Homo sapiens: one gene and its partners. The protein of the gene in region 4 purifies or fractionates together with the protein of the main gene of each other region. This does not show direct contact. Each region holds a gene or a part of one and is shown on either strand. Other genes may lie near its edges.

What was found. Proteins that work in one complex are often made in the same cells at the same time.
Region 1: the proteins of TRIM43 (region 4) and MLF1 purify together in Homo sapiens (affinity purification with a luminescence readout; one large-scale study listed by IntAct). This does not show direct contact.
Region 2: the proteins of TRIM43 (region 4) and SIRT3 purify together in Homo sapiens (affinity purification with mass spectrometry; 2 studies listed by BioGRID and IntAct, with this or other methods). This does not show direct contact.
Region 3: the proteins of TRIM43 (region 4) and EARS2 purify together in Homo sapiens (affinity purification with mass spectrometry; one large-scale study listed by BioGRID and IntAct). This does not show direct contact.

What each region holds. Positions count from the first base shown.
Region 1 is NC_000003.12:158,594,284-158,599,747, reverse strand, and holds part of MLF1 (myeloid leukemia factor 1), read right to left. Parts: intron 2,887-5,464; coding exon 2,803-2,886; intron 1,669-2,802; coding exon 1,540-1,668; intron 1-1,539. UniProt on the Homo sapiens protein: Involved in lineage commitment of primary hemopoietic progenitors by restricting erythroid formation and enhancing myeloid formation.
Region 2 is NC_000011.10:221,789-227,252, reverse strand, and holds part of SIRT3 (NAD-dependent protein deacetylase sirtuin-3, mitochondrial), read left to right. Parts: intron 1-1,171; exon of another isoform or gene 1,172-1,580; intron 1,581-3,013; coding exon 3,014-3,175; intron 3,176-5,464.
Region 3 is NC_000016.10:23,532,297-23,537,760, forward strand, and holds part of EARS2 (nondiscriminating glutamyl-tRNA synthetase EARS2, mitochondrial), read right to left. Parts: intron 5,259-5,464; exon of another isoform or gene 5,088-5,258; intron 4,937-5,087; exon of another isoform or gene 4,708-4,936; intron 3,065-4,707; coding exon 2,592-3,064; intron 470-2,591; coding exon 361-469; intron 1-360. UniProt on the Homo sapiens protein: Non-discriminating glutamyl-tRNA synthetase that catalyzes aminoacylation of both mitochondrial tRNA(Glu) and tRNA(Gln) and participates in RNA aminoacylation for mitochondrial protein translation.
Region 4 is NC_000002.12:95,596,891-95,601,493, forward strand, and holds the end of TRIM43 (tripartite motif-containing protein 43), read left to right. Parts: intron 1-438; coding exon 439-461; intron 462-989; coding exon 990-1,087; intron 1,088-2,201; coding exon 2,202-2,683; 3' UTR 2,684-2,888; downstream 2,889-4,603.

The DNA.
Region 1 (5,464 bases), on a different chromosome or scaffold from region 4:
TATAGTTTAATGCCTTCAAGACTGTCTTAGATAATGTAATAGAAGGAAGTTTATGGTGGGATTCCTACAAATAAGGGCAACTAATTATTCATCAGTCATATTGATTGGCTTGAATCTCATGATTCCCGACTATCAACTCTATGGAAGTATTATAAGAATATTTCTGATAGCAACTAACATGATTTACTGTGGGACATCTACAATTATATTCTGTTTACATTTAAGTTTGTCACTTTTAGAAAGTTAAAATTAAAATGTCTGAGATTAATTAGCAGAACTATGGCAAAAGCATCATTAAAAGGTTCATCTTTATATGTAAGAACTAAAAAATGTACTACTTCACATTCATTAGATTGGTAAACCTAAATTTTTACTATAAGTACTAACAAGGAAGTAGAGAAATGGAAACTCACAAGCCACAGTTTTGGAAGCCAACAATTTCAATCACTGGGATAGTAGCTTGGAAACGCTAGGTAAAGAGGAAAGTACACATACCCTACAACTCAGCAATACCACTCCTAGACTCTGTATAAGGAGCCATGTATAAAGATGAATTAGTGAAAGATTAGACTCACCTACATATCTATTGACAGAAAATGATTTAAAAATCATGGTACATTCATATTTTGGATATTACATAGAAGTTAAAGAAACCAGGGCCACATGTATCAACTTGAATAAATCTCAGAAGCGTATTAATCATAATATATTCATATTTTGGATACTACATAGAAGTTAAAGAAACCAGGGCCACATGTATCAAGCTGAATAAATCTCAGAAGCATATTACTCAGCAAAGACAAGTTGCAGAGGACATATGCAATATGATACCCTTTATGTAATGTTGGGAAATCTGGAAAATAATCCATTTTTTTAATGACAGAAACGTGAAGTAATAAAATTGTAAAAACATGCGTGAAAATGATAAACTCCAGATACAGGAAAATGGTAATCTCTGAGAAGGGGAGAAAGGGAAAATAGACCTCAGAGGAATGTATTAGAAGGTTTAACTGCCTCTGTACATTTTCGCTTAAAAAGAAAACAAAGCAAGAGACAACTTGAAGCAAATAGAGAAAAATGTTATGATATGACTAAACTGGGTGGCAGGAATATGGGCACTTATTATGTTATTCTCTATATCCTTTCTGTACACTTGAAATATTTCATGAGTTAAAAAATTAATTCACTTCAAATGTAAACTTAAAAATAGACATTAATTTCATGAAACAAAGGCTTCTTTTCGTGTTTTGTTTACCTTGTCAACATGTAAAGGTAATAAACATCCATAGATATTTACATGAAAAAAGGCACCCTCACGGGGGGGTGGGGGGGCTACAAAAAAAATGCCACAAACTAAGTAAATACAGTTGAGCTTTAATGGTTTCCACAGTGAGGACTACCTTACCCCCAACCCCCACACCTCCCTCCTGTCCCCCCACCATCTTGTACCAGATTAAATTTTAATAGTTAAAATTTGATCTAGACAGTCTATCATCCCCTAACTTTATAAAACTTTAGGAATGCTTATAGAAAACTTACTCCTCCTGGAGCTCGACGAGTTTGAGTTGAGGCCTGAAAAACCTTTGGCGGTTCATCTCCTATTTTGGAATAAGTCATAACTGAGGAAGAACAAAATGAATGTCCATTTGGATCCACTGAAAGTTGACCCTACAGGTAAACAAATTGTAAATTCAGTCGAGTCAAATATAAATAATTATTGCCAGAGAGTTCAAATAAGTAACAACACTAGCTGTAAGTTCTACTAAGGATACTAAACTACCAATATGGTGTAGTCAAAGGCACACCCAGGTTCTCAAGTGAGAAGTGACTTGAAAAATTACCTCCGCCCAAAAAAAGTCACCCCTAGAGGGTCCTAACGGTCGTCCATTTTAGGTACAATTATCCCACTCTCGTTACAAAGACTAATAAGTGACTCACTCAGAGATCCTTAAGTCTTTGGGTGCTCGTGGCTTAGATTTCAATAAAGATGCTATGCCCCCAAACCTGTGATACTTCTATAGTCAGTGGTTGACCCTTGTGTGTAATCTTGCCAACATTAAGCCAATCAATTAGTTATACATCAAGTTTCGTACCTCCTCCTGTAGGTACCAGATTGCTACATTACTAAAACCAATAATGCCCTAGATTATTTGGGCATTCTGAAATGATCCATAGAATTCAAACTGGATGACTAGAATGTTATGGGTCTTCTTCAGATCAAATCAAGTGACTGGTTTTGATGTTAATATAGAGAGTATTATTATAGTACTAGTTTATTTGGACTATTAGGGAACTATACCTAAACATTATTCCTAAAATTTCTGTTTTCAGAGTCGTTTATAAAACCCTGAAACTCTTCAGATGCTACAAATCCTTTTAAGTAGACAGGTTATTAATAATAAAATTATGCAAATTCATATAAAATGTTCATTTACAATAGTGACTTTCAATAGAATCAATGTTTTTGAGGTTATTTTTTTTCCAATTTTTAAAAAATTTTCAAAGTTAACATTATTTTTCAAACTTGGAGGTTATGAACTCAATTTAGTGGGTTGTAACCAGGATTTTTAATACATGAAATAGACTAGAAAATAACTGTATATACTGTAAATAGTATAGTCATTTTTTCATGAAACTTTTGCTTCAAATATATTTATAAAGTATACAAATATTGCTTATTGGGTTAATCATGTAAGGTATCTTTTTTAACCACTATGGTTAAAAAAGTGTTTGAAAGCCACTATGAAATAGAATATATCAAAGTATACACAATGTTCTCAATGCTTTGTTTTTAGTACTTACGAAGTTTCTTTCTAATTTCTGCATATAGTTTCTCATATTTGACACCATTTGGTCCATTGTCTGGAAAGAGCTGACATCTGTATGCTACAGAATATCAGGAAGTATGTTATTAACTGTAGGTAACAACACAAAAGATGCAAATACATCTTCCAAAACAGCTAAAACATTTTTTTCCAATTCATTTAGTGAAATCTCATGCAGTAATCAACCAGACAAAGATAACTTAGAGGATATAATGACAGTGATTAGTTAAGGAGAAAATTGAAGCATACACAAAATCCCAAAGAGCCAACATACAAATAATTAGGGAACTGTAACATTATAAATACATATATGTGCATGTATATATAAAAACACATACACACCTAATCACTCATTACTCACTTTTTCAAAACATAATTTGGTGTATGTTAAATACTAAGTGATACATTCTCTAGCATACGATAGTTTTCATAATTTTCCTTATCTCTCAATACTCCACCATGCAAATAACTAAATTTGCGTATAAGATGCCAGTGTCACCTCCAGCAGTACCACATGGCTGACAGAAGTTGTCCCTCGAGTAAGTAGCCAGCCTTCCTCTCATCATAGTAGGATCTGGGTGACAGAAATCAATTCACTTTACTAATAGGCCTTCAATTTGCTGCCTACTGAAGGGTCAGTAGGCTATACCCTTGAAGCATGAGGTATGTGTCTTCAGAAAAACAGTTAAGAATTCCTCTAAACAGTAGTTTCTCAACCAAGATTGATTTTGACTCTCAGTGGACACTGGCAATAACTATACTCATTTTTGGCTGTCACAGATGAAGAGAGCATATAACTAGCATCTAGTGGGTGGAGGTCAGGGATGCAGCTTAACATCCTACAATGGATAGGACAGTCTCCCAGAACAAAAAGAATTACCCTGCCCAAAATGACAGTAGGGCTGAGGTTGAGAAACTTTGCTCTAGGAAAATCTACCACTGATTTTAGGTTTTAAAATCTACCACTGATTTTAGGTTTTATCACTGGAAGACTCACCAGAAAATAAAAGTCAGGCACACATTCCAATGTGTTAGCCAGTAAATCATCTGTTATAAAACAGAATGAGTTGCTTGGTTTAATGAACTTCTCTGTTCAACCAAGCGGAGCTCTGAATCCTCCTAAGTTCTATTTGTGTCTCTGTGTTCTATTGCTATTGGATTTTTACAGATATAATAATGTAAAATAGGTGGGAAAACCAAATTCCTCCTTAGAACCTGCACTTAATATTGTAGGGAACAACAAAGGCACATTTAGGAAATACTAATATATATTTGGGTAAAAAAGGACTGAAGTAGAATTAATTTTGCATTTCAGAGAGGCAAACACAATTCAGGGAATATTCTGAATATTTGCTTTAACACTAGATTGAGAATCCGTTCTTATTTCATGAGATATGGAAAGGTTAACCCAAAGAAGGATAAAAAGAGAGAGAGGAAAAGATTAGACATTTGGGTATTTCTGCCCTCTTCTCAATTCATGTTCAAATCAACCATCAAAAGATGTATCTGCACTTGCTCTGGGGTGACCCAACACACTGGAGTGACAAAAAGTTGGGGTACAAAATGTAGTTGAGACTTCAGTGGGCCCTTAAGGCCTTCAAAAATTTTGTACACATTCTCCTCTTTCTTCCTTAAATGTTTCCTCCTGACTTTAAACCTAGTTAGTTCCTTCTCATGATTCAAGTATCACCACCTGAGAAAGGCCACCGCTGGTCACCTGTCTAATCCCTCCTTCACTTCCCCCCATCTCTGTATCATTACCCTGTTTCATCTTCAGGGTACTGTGACTATCTGAAATTATTTTGTTGTTTATTGTCTATCTTCCCACTTTATAAAAATAATCTCTGAGGGCAGGGCGATTTTGTCTATTTACTACAATATCCCCAATACATATATAATAATTCCTGGCACTTAAGAGGGTTTAATAAATATTTGCGGAATGAATGAATGAATAAATTATCTCTAGCTCAGCTCAAATCCATATATCCAACAGTTTACCAGATAAATCTACCTGGAAAACTCACAGATGCCTCAAATGCCAAACATCCAAAACTAAAATGATTGTTTTGACCACCTCACTCCTGTATCTGTACTGAATCAATGCCTTATCTCAGTGGCATTCCCATCTACCTTATTCTTCATGCCAGAAAAATGGGTGTGATACTTCCCTTCTCCCTCTCTACTGCTCCTTCAACCCTGTCAATCACCAAGTTCCATCCATTCGCCCTTTTAACTCTCTCTCAAATGAGGTAATTCATTTTTATCACCACAGACATTACCTAGTAGAAGTAAGCCATCACTAATACTTTACCAAGAATGCTTCAACAGCCTTCTGGCTTCCCTGCCTCCACTATGGTCTCTTCTAATATTTCAAGAATATGACTCTATTACCACTTTGACGTAAGTCATCACTGCTTCCTCTGCTTTTAAGATGATGTTTACTCTCCTTCTACGGTCTAAAGAAGTCTCTGGTTACCTCTTCTTCCTCATCAGTATCTACTGTTCAACTCATACTCCAGGGCTAAGTGATACTAAACATGTTTTAGCTCCCTAGCCTGCAGGTCTTTGCACATGCTGTTTCCTCTCTGTTGAACAGTATTCCTTTCCCCTCCCTCCTTTTCTGGCTAACTTCTACTAAT
Region 2 (5,464 bases), on a different chromosome or scaffold from region 4:
TTGGTGAGGCTGGTGTCGAACTCCTGACCTCATGATCCACCCGCCTCGGCCTCCCAAAGTGCTGGGATGACAGGCATGAGCCACCGTGTCTGGCCTCTCTGCCTGTTTTTTAAGACTTTTGTCTTTGGAGTTTTGCGGTTTCTCCACTGTGGTTTTCCATATGAATTTTCTTTTATTTCTTCTGCTTAAAATTTGTAGGCCAGTTGGTCATGGTGGCTCACGCCCGTAATCCCAGTACTTTGGGAGGCCGGGTGGGTGGATCGCCTGAGGTCAGGAGTTTGAGACCAGCCTGACCAACATGGAGAAACCCCATATCTACTAAAAATACAAAATTAGCCGGGCGTGATGGTGCATGCCTATAATCTCAGATACTCGGGAGGCTGAGGCAGGCGAATTGCTTGAACCAGGGAGGCGGAGGTTGCGGTGAGCTGAGATTAGGCCATTGCACTCCAGCCTGGGAAACAAGAGCGAAACTCCATCTCAAAAAAAAAAAAATAATAATAATAATTGTAGGCCTTCCTTAAGAAAAATAAAATAAAATTCTAGGCTGGGCGCGGTGGCTCCTGCCTGTAATCCCAGTACTTTGGGAAGCTGAGGCGGGTGGATCACCTGAGTTAGGAGTTTGAGACCAGCCTGGCCAACATGGTGAAACCCCGTCTCTACTAAAAATACAAAGATGAGCCATTTGTGGTGGCACCCATCTGTAATCCCAGCTACTCGGGAGGCTGAGGCAGGAGAATTGCTGGAACCCAGGAGGCAGAAGTTGTAGTGAACCGAGATCATGCCACTGCACTCCAGCCTGGGTGACAGAGCGAGATGCCATCTCAAAAAAATAAAATATAAAATAAAATTCTAAGCCCTGCAACCAACTGAATGGAGCCCTCCCCTTGGTCAAGGGAACCCCAGAGAAACCTTGGAAGCTTGAGTTCCTGGCCGTAGCAGGAGAGGAGGTCAGACGCGCCTCACTGTACCCCTCCCTCCCCAGCCACCATTAGGCTTCTTCACTAAGGGCTAAACAGAAACCAGCCCTTTTCAAAGACTCTACACTGCTAATGTGGATTACTGGTTTATCTTCCCAGATACAGATTAAAGACAAGATGAGATTAATGGTTCCTTCACCCTTCCCTGAGAGGTCTGCTTAGTTCTCTTCCTCTGTTTCCTTCTATCTTAGGTAAAATGTACATTTACTGGGCACTTACTGAAGTCTCACAAGTACGTAACCACTCACCTCACAGCCACCCTCCCTCTTTGAAGGACCACATGTAATTACTAAACCTCCTGAGAACCTCTTGGGACAGAAACAAGCACAGATGTGCCGTGACTCATGTTTTTCCTGTGGGCACCCTCAGGCTGGCTCAGTAGCCCTCACTTGCTTGAGATCCTGAATCTGCGGGTTGGCGTCTTTCATGGTTGCTGGATCATACTCTGCCGTTATCTCTTCGGATATGAGTTGCCCCTAGCCCACTATCTGGCCCCTCTCTTTAGGGACCTCTGATTGAACATACATTAGACCTTCTCTCTCCTGCTGTTCCTGATCACTCTTCTGTCCTGTAATTGCTGCTTCTTGTGCTGCATTCTGGGTAATTTCTTCTGGTCTTTTTTCCAGTTTACTAATATTGTATTCTGTTATAAGGTCCTTCCATTGAGTGTTTCTTTCTTTCTTTTTTCCCAAACAGCAACTCAAAACAGACATTGAGTTTTAATTTTGGTTCCTGTACTTTTTATTTCTAGAAGTTCTATTTGGTTATTTTTCAAGTCTGCTACATTATTACATAATTTTTTAATAATTTTATATCTTTAATAGATAGTTTTTTGTTTTGTTTTGTTTTGTTTTGTTTTTTGAGACAGAGTCTCGCTTTGTTGCCCAGGCTGGAGTGCAGTGGTGCAATCTCAGCTCACAGCAACCTCCGCCTCCCAGGTTCAAGTGATTCCCCTGCCTCAGCCTCCCAAGTAGCTGGGATTACAGGCACGCATCACCACGCCTGGCTAATTTTTTGTGTTTTAGTAGAGACAGGGTTTCACCATGTTGGCCAAGACAGTCTCGATCTCCTGACCTCGTGATCTGCCCACCTCGGCCTCCCGAAGTCCTGGGATTACAGAGCTGAGCCACTGCGCCTGGCCTTTGATAGATATTTCAAGTTCATCTTTTTTTTTTGCTTCCTTAATTTTTTTTTTTGCTATACCCCATGCCTCCAAGATAACAGTTTTTTCTTTTTAATTTAAATATAATACAGTTTTACTGTGTATCCAAGAATATCTGAAATCTTTCGTGGGTCTCTTTCTTTTGTCTTTTGTATCTGTTGCTTTTTGCTGGGCTGAGCCTGCTTAAAACAAGCCCCGTTAGCTGTAAAGGTTTACCTTAGAAAGTCAGGTGTCTTCCTCTGTAACTCTCTCCCTTTTCCATCTGCTCCAAGGCATTTATTTATATTAATCTTGACGCAAAGGGAAGTTGTGTCCACTTCACCTTGGCCAGTAAGGAAGCAGTGTTTGGCAGATGTTGTTACTCCTAATAATGCCAGCCAGTGAGTGAAGCTGACCTGAATGCCTCCCAGGGCTGAGGCAATGGCATGATCACCGAAGCTCAAACCAGAGACAGTTTCACCTTTCTGACTGAATAGTGTTCGGTGTAGGCCAAATGCCTGCAGACTACTGTTTGAGGACTGGTGTGGTCTACCAGGTGTTTCCTTAGCGCCTGGATGTCTCTGGCTGCCATCCCAGGGATAGAGCATGGTGTTAGATACGCTAGATGCCTGCCGAAGTAATTATGGGTGAAACATATGATGTCCAAGATTTGCTTTTAAAGGCTCCAATACCTCCTCCCAGATTCCGGAGGGCTGTGAAACAATTAGCTATGAAAACTGGTAATTCCTGAAGCTGGGTACATGGGGGTTCATGATCCCTCTCTCACCTTTTTTGGGGGAGAATGTTTGAGACTTTAATAAGAACTTGTTGCCTTTTCCTTTTACAGGGTGTTGCAGGCATCTTCCTCAGGCCTGTTTTCTCTGTTTTCCAGGCTGACGTGATGGCAGACAGGGTTCCCCGCTGCCCGGTCTGCACCGGCGTTGTGAAGCCCGACATTGTGTTCTTTGGGGAGCCGCTGCCCCAGAGGTTCTTGCTGCATGTGGTTGATTTCCCCATGGCAGATCTGCTGCTCATCCTTGGGACCTCCCTGGAGGTTTGTCAGCAGGCCTGTGCAGGGAGGAGGCTGGAGGGCAGGGGAAGGGAGGGGTACAGGAGTCATCTCATGGGCTGTCGGCAGGCCTGTGCAGGGAGGAGTCTGGAGGGCAGGGGAAGGGAGGGGTACAGGAGTCACCTCATGGGCTGTCGGCAGGCCTGTGCAGGGAGGAGGCTGGAGGGCAGGGGAAGGGAGGGGTACAGGAGTCATCTCATGGGCTGTCGGCAGGCCTGTGCAGGGAGGAGGCTGGAGGGCAGGGGAAGGGAGGGGTACAGGAGTCATCTCATGGGCCCTTCCAGGGCTGGTGCCACTTTGGGAAGGTGAATGGATTCAGCTGGGGTTCCAGGCTGAGGGAGCAGCAGCCTGTGCAGGAGACAGGAAGGTGGGAAGCTGCTGGGCTTTGGAGGTGGTATAGGTGTGGGTGGGGCACCACGTGTGAGGAGAAGGGAGAAGGATGGGGGTGTGGGGGCGAGGTGGAGGGGCAGGGCCTCCCAGGTCAGATCAGGAATACTGATGCTGCAGTGGGAGGAGTGATAAATCCACAGGGACTGGCCCGGGGACGTAGCTGCACCCTTGGGGTCAGGGAGGCCTTTGGGGAGTGGAGAGTGGAGCAAGCAGTGCCAGGAGGCTGGTCCTGGAGAAGGTGGAGCTGTGGTCGCCTGAGGGATGGCGAGGAGGGGGACTGGACTCGCAGTCTGTGATGTTTTGGGGACGTGAGAAGGAGGCGTCTGGCTTGGTCTGTAAGGTCAGGGCACTTGCTGGTGAGGCGTGATTTGGGAGGGAGGATGCCCAGCTCGGTTCTGTGTGTGTCTGAGGTGTCGGGAAACATGCCCTGGATGTGTTCAAGCAGCTGTTCTGCGTCTGCGTCTGCAGCTCAGGAAATTCCTAAAAGCTGTGATGAGAGCAAGAAATGAGACCATGAAGTCAGTGTGTGCGTGACTGGATGTAGGCACCGAGGACAGAAGGGCCAGAAAGACCTGTGCTCAGAGGGGCCCAGGGCAGCCACAGGGGCCCAGAGCATGTGTTTGTTCAGGCATTCATTGTGTGCTGGGCCCTGCTCCAGTGCTTTGGACATACACGGTCAGATGTCAGTGTAAGAAGTTATATAGTTTGTTAGGAGATGATTGATGTTATGAGAAAGATAACAAGTAGGATAGAAAGGCTAGAAGGGTTGGGAACCAGCTGCAGTGTCAAGTCAGGCAGGTGGAGTTGGATCTAAGAGTTTACCGAGGTGAGGAGGGTCTGGCAGGGGACACTGCACAGGTGACAAGCAGCAAGGAGGGTGGGGCGAAGTCAGCATTGATGGCCACGGGGCTGGAGCAGAGAAGAAGGTGGGGCACAAGTGTCATCTCATGGGAGGCTGGCGCCACCTCAGAAGGTGAATGGGTTCAGCTTGGGTTCCAGGCCAGAGTCTGAAGTTGAGAGGACTCCGTTGGGTGCTGGGCTGTGAGCCCACCATGGGGGCAAGACTGGGAGCAGCAGACCCAGCAGGGCCCTTGTAGGTAATCACCGGCTGGCACTGGCTGGGGGCCAGGTAAAGCCAGCAGAGGCTGAGGGGTGCTGGAGTCTGGGTGTGTGTGAACGCAGAGTGGGTACGCTGGCACAGTGCATGGGAGGCCGTGGATTCCCAAGGACCCCAGGGCTGTGGCTGGAGCAGCTGGAAAGACGGAGCCGCCGCTTCCTGAGATGGAGAAGCCTGGTAGGTGGGTTTGGGGGAGCTCAGGAACTCAGCCTTGTTTCCACGGATTTGAGGATGTGCTGCGGACTGGAGGTGTTGAGCAGGTGGACATGAGTCTGGAGTCCAGGAAGGCCCAGAGGCAGGAGCTGGGGTGCTGGAGTGAGCAGACAGGAGAGCCCAGGGTGTGGACAGACATGAGAATGCCATGCTAGGCCTAGGATGGAGGGACAGACACAGGAGGAGCAGTCAGAGGGGCCATGGTGGTCAGCACAGTGTGGGCTGAGACCAGCTGACCGTGCTGGCCACCAGGTGTGGACACTTGGGCCACCAGCCATCTTTATTGTTGAAGTGAAATGAAAATGGCCTTTTTCCTGATTATAAGTGTATCATGTGTGTCTTTGAAAAGATTCGTACATTATATAAAGATATAAAGCAAAGGATCAACTTTTTAATCCCACCAACTGTTAGCATTTTATTCTGTGTCCTCTCAGCTTTCTTTTTTTTGTACAAATGCATACGTACAGATGGTAATTTTAAACTAAAAGTTGGACAGCACTGTACATTCTATTCTGCAGCCTGCTGTTTTCACGTAACAATGTGAGTCCATGGAG
Region 3 (5,464 bases), on a different chromosome or scaffold from region 4:
TGAAGATACACCTCTCCAGGCTTTGGTTGTTAACAGAGTCCATGCAAGGGGTGGCTAGGAACATAATGTTAATGATAAAAATATACGTACCATTTACTGAGCACTTTGTATGTGCCAGGGCTATACAAGATATTTTCATGCAACACTTAATACAAGATACTTTCATAGAACAAGGATATAAGATCAGTACTGTTATTAATCCCATTTTAGAGAAGAGAAAACAGAGGCTCAAAGAGGCTAGGTGATTTAGCCATGGTCACACAGAATTAGGTACCAGAGCCCATTATACCCTCTGCTGTAGGGATCATCATAAGCAAGAAAGCCCTTTGCCACCAGGGGATCTCCATGCTCCCCACTCACCTGTTGAATTCTGGGAGCTTCTCCAGGTCCAGCAGGGCTGAGTGACAGGTGACCTGTGTCAGGTTGAACTGTGTGATCAGCTCCGGCAGGGTCCTGCCCATTTGGTTCTCTGCAAAGAAGAGAGGCCCAGCCACTCAGCTTCCTCTCTCCCTTCCTCCTTCCACTTTATCTCTTTTTTTTAAGAGACAGGATCTTGCTCTGCTGCCCAGGTTGGAGTGCAATGGTACAATCCTAGCTCACTGTAACCTCAAACTCCCAGGCTCAAGCAATCCTCCAGCCTGTCTTCCAAGTAGCTGGGACTACAGGCACATACTACCGCACCTGGCTAATTTTTAAATTTTTCTGTAGAGCCAGGCATGGTGGCTTACACCTGTAATACCAGCATTTTGGGAGGCAGAGGTCGGCAGATCATGAGGTCAGGAGTTCGAGACTGGCCTGGCAAACATGGTGAAACCCATCTCTACTAAAAATACAAAAATTAGCCAGGTGTGGTGGCGCATGCCTGTAATCCCAGCTACTCAGGAAGCTGAGGCAGGAAAATCACTTGAACCTGAGAGGCGGAGATTGTAGTGAGCTAAGATTGTGCCGTTGCACTCCAGCCTGGGCAACAGAGCGAGACTCTATCAAATAAATACATCATACACACATACATACATACATTTTTCTGTAGACATGGAGTTTCACTATATTGCCCAGGTTGGTCTCAAACTCCCAGGCTTAAATGATCCTCCTGCACTGGCCTCCCAAAGTGCTGGGATTACAGACATGAGCCACTGTGCCCGCCCTCCTTCTACTTTCAAACATAAGGGAGGCTGAGTGAGCAAGCCCTGGGCCCCCCATTCCACTTTGCCCAAAGGGATTTAACTTCTAGCTATTTATATATCAAGAGCCTGAATGAGCTTTCATTTTCAGAAAGGGTTCCATCATTAAAGAAAAAAAGGTCTGAAAACAATCAGGCTAAACCCATCTCCATTACTCTCAAGACACGAGCTGCAGAACAGTACGCCCATTGCCTGGCTGTACCAGAGACTCTGAGTCAACTGGGTTTGGTTGGGGTCTGAGCATATTTTAGAAGCTTCCTAGCTGATTCCAAAGCACGATCAAGAGTTAAGAACCAGGCCAGGCACGGTGGCTCACGCCTGTAATCCCAGTACTTTGGGAGGCCAAGGCGGGTGGATCACCTGAGGTCAGGAGTTCGAGAACAGCCTGGACAACATGGTGAAACCCCATCTCTACTAAAAATACAAAAATTAGCCAAGCGTGGTGGCGGGTGCCTGTAATCCCAGGTACTCGGGAGGCTGAGGCAGGACAATCGCTTGAACCCAGGAGACGGAGGTTGCGGTGAGCCGAGATCGCGCCATTGCACTCCAGAATGGGGGACAAGAAGTTCTGTCTCAAAAAAAAAAAAAAAAAGTTAAGAACCGTAGTGCTGGGAGCTGCTTCTTGTGAGCAGCAGCTCAGTCCCATACGGTCAGCAGGCATCGTGATCAGGCATAGGCCTAAAGCGCTATATCCCTCACTAGGTGTGTGACTTTGGCAAGTTACTCAGCTTCTCTGAGCTTCACAATCCTCTTACAAACAGTGGAGATATGTATCTACCCCTTAATAGTATGTTGTGTTAAATGAAATGAGACCAGCAGGCAGGCTATTCTGGACACATTTTCAGAAATCCTTCAGGTCATCCTATTTGATGCTTGCTTCTTCAAGGTTTGGGTCTAAGTCTTGGACCATGGGTAAGTGCTCAGCTTGAAATAAACTAGATTCATCTGGCAGTAAAATGAAGAAGGAAAAAAAGAAACTAAATCCATATTAATTCTAGTCATACTGTTAGCATACATGCTTGTAATAATTGTCACAATCATAGGGTCTGTCATTTTTTGTGCTTACAGTGTGACAGGTGCTGGGCTGGGTACCTTACACTCCTGAGCTCAGTGAATCCTAACCCAATGAGGTAGACACTTATCCCCATTTTCCAGATATGCAACTGAGGCTCAGAGACTATAAGTCCCTTGAGGGCAGGGATCATGTCTATCTCACCCACTACTGTAGCCCCAGCACTTAATGTGGTGTCTGGCAAAATAAACATTTATTGAATAAAAGAATAAACTTGTCCAAGGTCACCTGGCTGGTAGGTGGCAAAGCTGGGACCAAAGAGCAGGACTGTCTGAGCCAAAGCCCTGCTCCTCCTGGCCATGCTCTCTGCTGCCAGGACTATTCAGGTGGGCACGTACCTGCAAAACCTGAGCCACAGTTGGTGATGATGTCCAACAAGGAATCGGGCAGGAAGCCATCAGCAGCAAAGTGCTCCAGGAAAACGTCCCCTTGCCTCTTGGAGAGCTTGCTGCCATCCCTGTTGAGGAGCAGGGGCAGGTGGGCGAAGTGGGGTGGCTGCCAGCCCAGGGCCTGGTAGAGGAGCAGGTGCTTGGCAGTGGAGACGAGCCACTCAGAGCCTCGCAGCACGTGGCTGATGCCCATGTGGTGGTCGTCCACCACGCAGGCCAGGTGGTATGTGGGGAAGCCGTCGCTCTTCATGATGACTGGGTCTCCCTCCACGCTGGCCACTTCATGCCTATTCCAGCCATAGACCAGGTCCTGGAAGGCTGGCACCACCTGCTCCAGGCGGAAGCGGATCGCAGGCTTGGGGTCCTTGGCCAGCTTCTGGGCCACCTGCTCCTGGCTCATGTTCCTGCACCGATTGTCATACCTGATGGGGAGCAGAGCAGCATGAGTACTGTTGATGGAAAGGTTGATGGACAGGAGTCCTACCTCTGTCATAGCTGTGTGACCTTAAGCAAGTCAGTTACTGCTGCAAGCTGCTTCCTCAGTCTATAACAGGGATGATGGTACAGTTGTGTGGAAAACTGAGATAACATGGTGTAGCAGACACTAATGTCTGCCTATCTACCAGCCATTCCACGCTTCTTCCTTGCTAACAAGAAAATAGCAAAATGCTTAGTCCGAGGGGTTGAATCCTGATTGGTATAGCCAATCTTGCAATCCTATTGCTCCATGCCAGTGACCAGTCCAGGCAGGAATGTAACCCCATCCTAGTCACTGGGATGCAAAGAAAAGCATGCCTGGGGAGTAAGAAAGGTTTAAGGTTCCGGGAAAGGTTTTTCTCTCCAAAGGACAAGAAGAGAAAGCCACAGGAGGAAAATCCCTTCTTAAAATTTCCCACTGCCCCACTTCTGTCCTCTTTGGATGTTGTCCTGTAAGGGGAGCATGCTTGGACCTGCGGCAGCTACTTGCAACTGCAGGAGGGAAGGCAATGAAGTCAGAGAGAAGCCAAAATAGAGCCCTGGTGTCTCTACACTGCTAGTCTCATCCTGGAGTCACCCACCTCCAGCCTTGTGCAGAATCAAAAGACAAATGTCTATGATTGATGCCCTGGCTACTGAAAGTGTGGTCTGTGGGCCCCTAGCATCAGCCTCTTGGGAGTCTGCCAGAAATGCAGACTCTTAGGCTCCACCCCAGACCTACTGAGTCAGAATCTGAACATTAACTAGGTCCCCAGGTGATCCATCTGTGAGTTAAAGTATCGTTTGTCCCTTCTAACAGGGTATTCCACTAACTGCACCCAAAAGCGTTCTGAGACACAGATGGAATGCTTGTAAGGTTAGTCTTTGCCACAGCTAAGTGTTCAATCAATCAATAAATGGTGCACAGGGCTGGACACAGTTGCTCACGTCTGTAATCCCAGTGTTTTGGGAGGTCAAGGTAGAAGGACAGCCTGACCTCAAGGGTTCAAGACCAGCGTGGGTAACATAGCAAAATCCTGTCTCTTATTTAAAAATTTAAAATACCAGCCTGGGCAACATAGTGAGACTCTGTCTCTACAAAACAAAACAAAACAAAATCAGCCAGGTGTGGTGGTGCATTCCTGTAGTCCCAGCTCTGTGGGAGGCCAAGGTGGAAGAATCACTGGAGCCCAGGAGGTTGAGGCTGCAGTAAACTATGATGGCACCACTGCACTCTAGCCTGGGTGACACAGCGAGACCCTGTCTCAAAAAAAAAACTTTTTTTTTCTTTTTTTTTTTTTTTTTTGAGATAGAGTCTCGCTGTGTCACCCAGGCTGGAGTGCAGTGTCGTGACCTTGACTCACTGCAACCTCCACCTCCAGGGTTCAAGCAATTCTCCTGCCTCAGCCTCCTGAGTAGCTAGGATTACAGGTGCCTGCCACCACAACCGGCTAATTTTTATATTTTTAGTAGAAATGGGGTTTCACCACGTTGGTCAGGCTGGTCTCGAACTCCTGATCTCGTGATCTACCCGCCTCGGCCTCCCATAGTGCTGGGATTACAGGTGTGAGCCACCGTGCCCGGCCAAAAAAGAAATTTTTACAAATGAGTCAGTTGCACATGAGTGAACAGGAGGGTGTTCAGCTGCAGAAGCAGGGCAGCATTATGTCTGAATCAAAGGAACTTGTTTCTTCAAGCTCTTCTGGCAGGAATTCTGACAGTGAGTTTGACAAAAAGTTAAAGAAGAAAAAGTAAGTTGCTCCAGAAAAACTTGTAAAGGAACAAAAGACTGGCAAAACTTTGGGAGCTCTGTCATCTTCCAAACAGAGCAGCGGCAGTAAACATAATAACATGTTTATTTTCTTTTTTAAATTTCATATAGAGATGGGGTTTCACCATGTTGCCCAGGCTGGTCTCGAACTCCTAGTCTCAAGTGATCCACCCTCCTCAGCCTCCCAAAGTGCTGTGATTAGATTACAGGCCACTGTACTCAGCTGATAACATGTTTCAGATTGGGAAAATGAGGTACCTTAGTGTTTGGGATGTTAAAGGGGAAGTGCTAATTGATGGTATTAGAGATTATTGGATGGATCTCAAAGGTTAAATAAAACCAGGAAGAAAAGGTATTTCTTTAAATCCACAGCAATGGGGCCAGCTGAAGAAACATTCATTCATTCATTCATTTACTGAGACAGGGGACAAGGTCTCACTCTCGTTGATCAGGCTGGAATGCAGTGGTGCAATCATGGCTCACTGCAGTCTTGACTTCCTGGGCTCATGTGATTCTCTCATCTCAGCCTCCCGAGCAGCTAGGACTACAGGTATGCACGACTATACCCAGCTAATTTTTTGTATTTTTAGTAGAG
Region 4 (4,603 bases):
TAAAAGAGTGGCAGTAATAGTATACGGTAATTCTAAAGTTTTGAAAACCTAAAGACCAGATAGGCAGAATAGCAACTTTTTTGTGTGTTTATTTTGAGACAGAGTCTTCTTCTGTCACCCAGACTGAAGTCCAATGGCCCAATCTCAGCTCACTGCAACTTCTGCCTCCTTGGTTCAAGCAATTCTCCTGCCTCAGCCTCCCTAGTAGCTGGGACTAAAGGCATGAACCACCACACCCCACTATTTGTGTGTGTGTGTGTATTTTTAGTAGAGACGGGGATTTGCCATGTTGTCCAGGCTAGTCTGGAACTCCTGACCTCAGGTGTTCCACCCACCTTGGCCTCCCAAAGTGCTGGGATTACAGGTGTGAACCACCTCACCCAACAAGAATAACAACTTTCTAAAGAAGTCATTTTTTTTTTCTCTCTCTCTCTACAGGATTTGGGAGACATCGTGGCAAGGTATGTTTTTGGCCGTCAGTGCAAACTGGAGCACAAGGCATGCTATGAAAAACATCAAGCTGTTTCCAACAAAGTGAAAACATAATTTACTAACACCATAATGTGTCAGTGTGATTGTGTGTGTATGTGTGTGTAGTCATGTGTTTATGTGGTATGATGAATGTCATCTATGCCTTTTATCAGACATTAATCTTTTCTTACTTTCCCAAGTGACTCAGGGGTTTATGTTTTGAAGAGTGCAATGCAGAGGTTGCTAGAATACAGTTGCCTCTTTTTGCGATTCAGAATCATAATTAGAGATAAACTATTTGGTGGCAGATAGGGAGAGAGGCATTTATCTTTCAGGGGCAGTAGGTTAGAAATGGAGTGAATAGTTAGAAAGATTCCCTAAGAGCCACAAACCCATCCTAGCGTTGTGGAGGTACATTACGGTATCAGAAGTGGGTTTGAATGAAGCATTTTCTGTTGGAATCTGTTTCTTAAACACAGACATCAGAAAGTTAACCAACTCAACCTACTTCCTTGCAGGAGTGAGTCCGTGCTGCTGCACATGCCCCAGCCTGTGAATCCAGAGCTCACTGCAGGACCCATCACTGGACTGGTGTACAGGCTCAACCGCTTCCGAGGTGAGTGTGGCCCTGTTGGTGGGATCCACATGCAATGCCTTCAATTATGGTTTTCTATGGGCAGCTTTCCCAGTGTAATGATCTTTCATCTAGAAGAAGAGAATAGCCTGTGAATAGGTATTTATATTTATAGTTTCACTATCATCAAACAGACAAAACGAAATAAAAGCTGGTGAAATGTAATAGGAATCAGCCATATAACAAATTTCTTAGAAAAATAAAACATGCAGAAGGGCTCTTTAGGACTTTAGGAACCATTCTCTGATACAATTTCATGTATACAATTATTACATGAAGTATACAGAACTGAATTCAGGACATTTCAATTTCAAATTCAGTGCAGTTAACGACTGATTTGAGTGACAGCGTTTTTTTAAAAAAAATACATTTTTAGGTGATGTTTCATAGCATTTATAATTTTAATCATGTTTTTAATCAACTAAAGCATACATGAGTAACTTATATAACAATGCAAAAACTGAGAATCTGTCAACAATAGGAACATGATTTGGTGGTTGATGAGGTCTTAGATAGAACTCCAGGATAGATCATGACAAATCCAGCAGAATAAAAGAAGTCTGTGCCTGAATCTGGCATGAAAGTCAGATAATTTTTGCAAGGAATCAGCACTTTTCAGAAGGCAGATTCAGGTTTTCTCTTTAAGTATGAATTTGCTAGGTTAAGTGGCAGATCATAATATTTCTGGAAAGTGATAACTTTTTTATTTGGGACTAAGAATAGCTCCCCACCTCATCTCCTGTCCAAAGCCTCCTGCTCTGCCCTGACAGAGACGAGACAATGAAGGTTAATTTTATGGCTATGGACTTGGCTGCAGTGGAGGAGCTTCCAGTTTTTCAGTTGTTATGAAAGGTCGCTAACGAGACATAGACATGACCTTCCTCCCCTTTATACTTTTTGAGTTTATGGAAATTGTGATCATCCTAGTTTAGCCATTTACTTGTGCAGATCTCCTAACACCCTTTGATTCCAACATTTTTCCAGACAGAAGTTTCTTTCTAATCTTGACCTGTGTTTTCTAGTGAGAATCTCTTTCTTATCTGAACATAAGAATTTACAAACTGATTTTCACTGGAACATTCTCTTTTTTCTACAGTGGAAATTTCCTTCCATTTTGAAGTAACCAATCACAATATCAGGCTCTTTGAGGATGTGAGAAGTTGGATGTTTAGACGTGGACCTTTGAATTCTGACAGATCTGACTATTTTGCTGCATGGGGAGCCAGGGTCTTCTCCTTTGGGAAACACTACTGGGAGCTGGATGTGGACAACTCTTGTGACTGGGCTCTGGGAGTCTGTAACAACTCCTGGATAAGGAAGAATAGCACAATGGTTAACTCTGAGGACATATTTCTTCTTTTGTGTCTGAAGGTGGATAATCATTTCAATCTCTTGACCACCTCCCCAGTGTTTCCTCACTACATAGAGAAACCTCTGGGCCGGGTTGGTGTGTTTCTTGATTTTGAAAGTGGAAGTGTGAGTTTTTTGAATGTCACCAAGAGTTCCCTCATATGGAGTTACCCAGCTGGCTCCTTAACTTTTCCTGTCAGGCCTTTCTTTTACACTGGCCACAGATGATCAGGATTAAGAAAACTTACTGTTTGGGAACTCCATATACAAGGGAGCCCTTCACTGTTGATACAAAGAAATCATACTGTTCAGGCTTTTTTGTACTTTAGTGTCACTTCATTTTATTGCTATTAAATAAAAAATTTGTAAAAGGCAAAACTTTTTGTACATTTTCTTACAATTAAAATAATCTCTTATGGACCATTACCTAAAATACGTATTGTGATTTTCAAGTGTTTGTGAATTTATTGGATGGAATTCTGGAAATATGTGGGTGTGTGATTCCAACTTAATGATCTCATTCAGGAACAACTTTTGTACATCATGGGCAGACGGGGTTTTGTACAATGCACTTGTAAGTGTGAGAGTTCCCTCCTATTAATACAGTAAATTCTACACCTCATCCCTTTGGGGGGAAAAATTTATTTCACACAGAAGTTGTCACTGAATCTTTGGGCTAGAACAGGAATTTAACAGTCATGCATCCTATGGCAACAAAATACATTCTGAGAAATGCATTATTAGGCGATTTCATCATTGTGTGAACATCAGAACACACTACAAAAACCTAGATAGTATATTCATCTACAGACATAGGCTAATGGTACAGCCTATTGCTTTTCTGAGAATTTGCTAGCGATGTCTGAGCAAGAACCAAAAGGGTTTAACCCACATTGAATTCTGCAGCTGTTTAATAAAGCAAACAGCATCATCCAGGGAATAATAGATGTGCAGACTGTCTGCTTTAAAATGTGTTTATATTTCCAATTCACACAGACTGTGAATTCTCATTGACAACCTAGAGACCAGACATAACCAACACCTCATGTTACATTGGAAACATATTAGTATCAGGTAAAAATAAATAAATAAATAAATAAACAAACTAACTAAATTAAACCAAAACAAAAAGTGAAACAAACAAAACCCAGTTCTGATGAAAACCCAGTTTATAGTGAGTCCATTGAGTCTGTCTAGCCACCAGATGGTCATTTTCATGATCACTGATTAAATAATGGAAACATTCTACTTCCAGTCCAGCAGATGATCCTGGCTGATGTCTGAGGTTCATTGCTTGGGGCTGTTACCTAGAATATATTCAAACGGCCTTTCCAGGTAGCTCCCTGGGCTTGCTCACAGCATGGTAGATAATTTTCCACAGTGAAGATTCCCATAGAGTCAGGAGAATTGTATACTACCATTATTCCAGAGAGTAAAACATCAGCTGTAGCCACAACCCTACACAAAGTAAAGGGACTAGAACACACACACAGCAGTAGCAGTCTTGAAGTTACATCATAGAAAAACAATGTGGGATGGAATATATATTTTAGCACTCTTTTAGAGAGAGTGGGGGAGGAATATAACCTACTACACCTACTCTTCCTAAGAAGTGGACACTGAGGATCTATATCCAGAGACTGGGGGTCCTGTAAAACATGAGATCCAACGAGCCCCTTATAGAAACACCATTCAAGTTCCAGATTCCTGGAAAAGGGCAATTGACAATTGACCAGGTAAATATTCTTTTGGAAATTTTCTTCAAGATTTGGTATCAACTGGACAATCATTATGAACACAGCACAGCAAAATCACTGAGGAAGATGCACATGACACTGGAGTAGAGGGGGGGAAGGGGTGGTCCATCTCCTTCAAGATGACCAGGGAGAGACACAGTAATTCTATGTCAATGAGATGAAAAAGGTCAGGGCATCCTTGTCAGGAACCGCCTTCTGATGTCTATACGCGGCTGCAAACTATTCATGTAGGCCTTCTGAATGCCTTGTACTTCCCAAGATTTCTTGATGTTAAGAACCACTGACTGGGGTTCATAGTACGTAGAATACCTTCAGCATAGAGGGTGACAAAGTCTTTCCCTCAAAAGCCAGAAATTCAGAAACCTGTAGCTGAGTCATCCACTGGACCTTA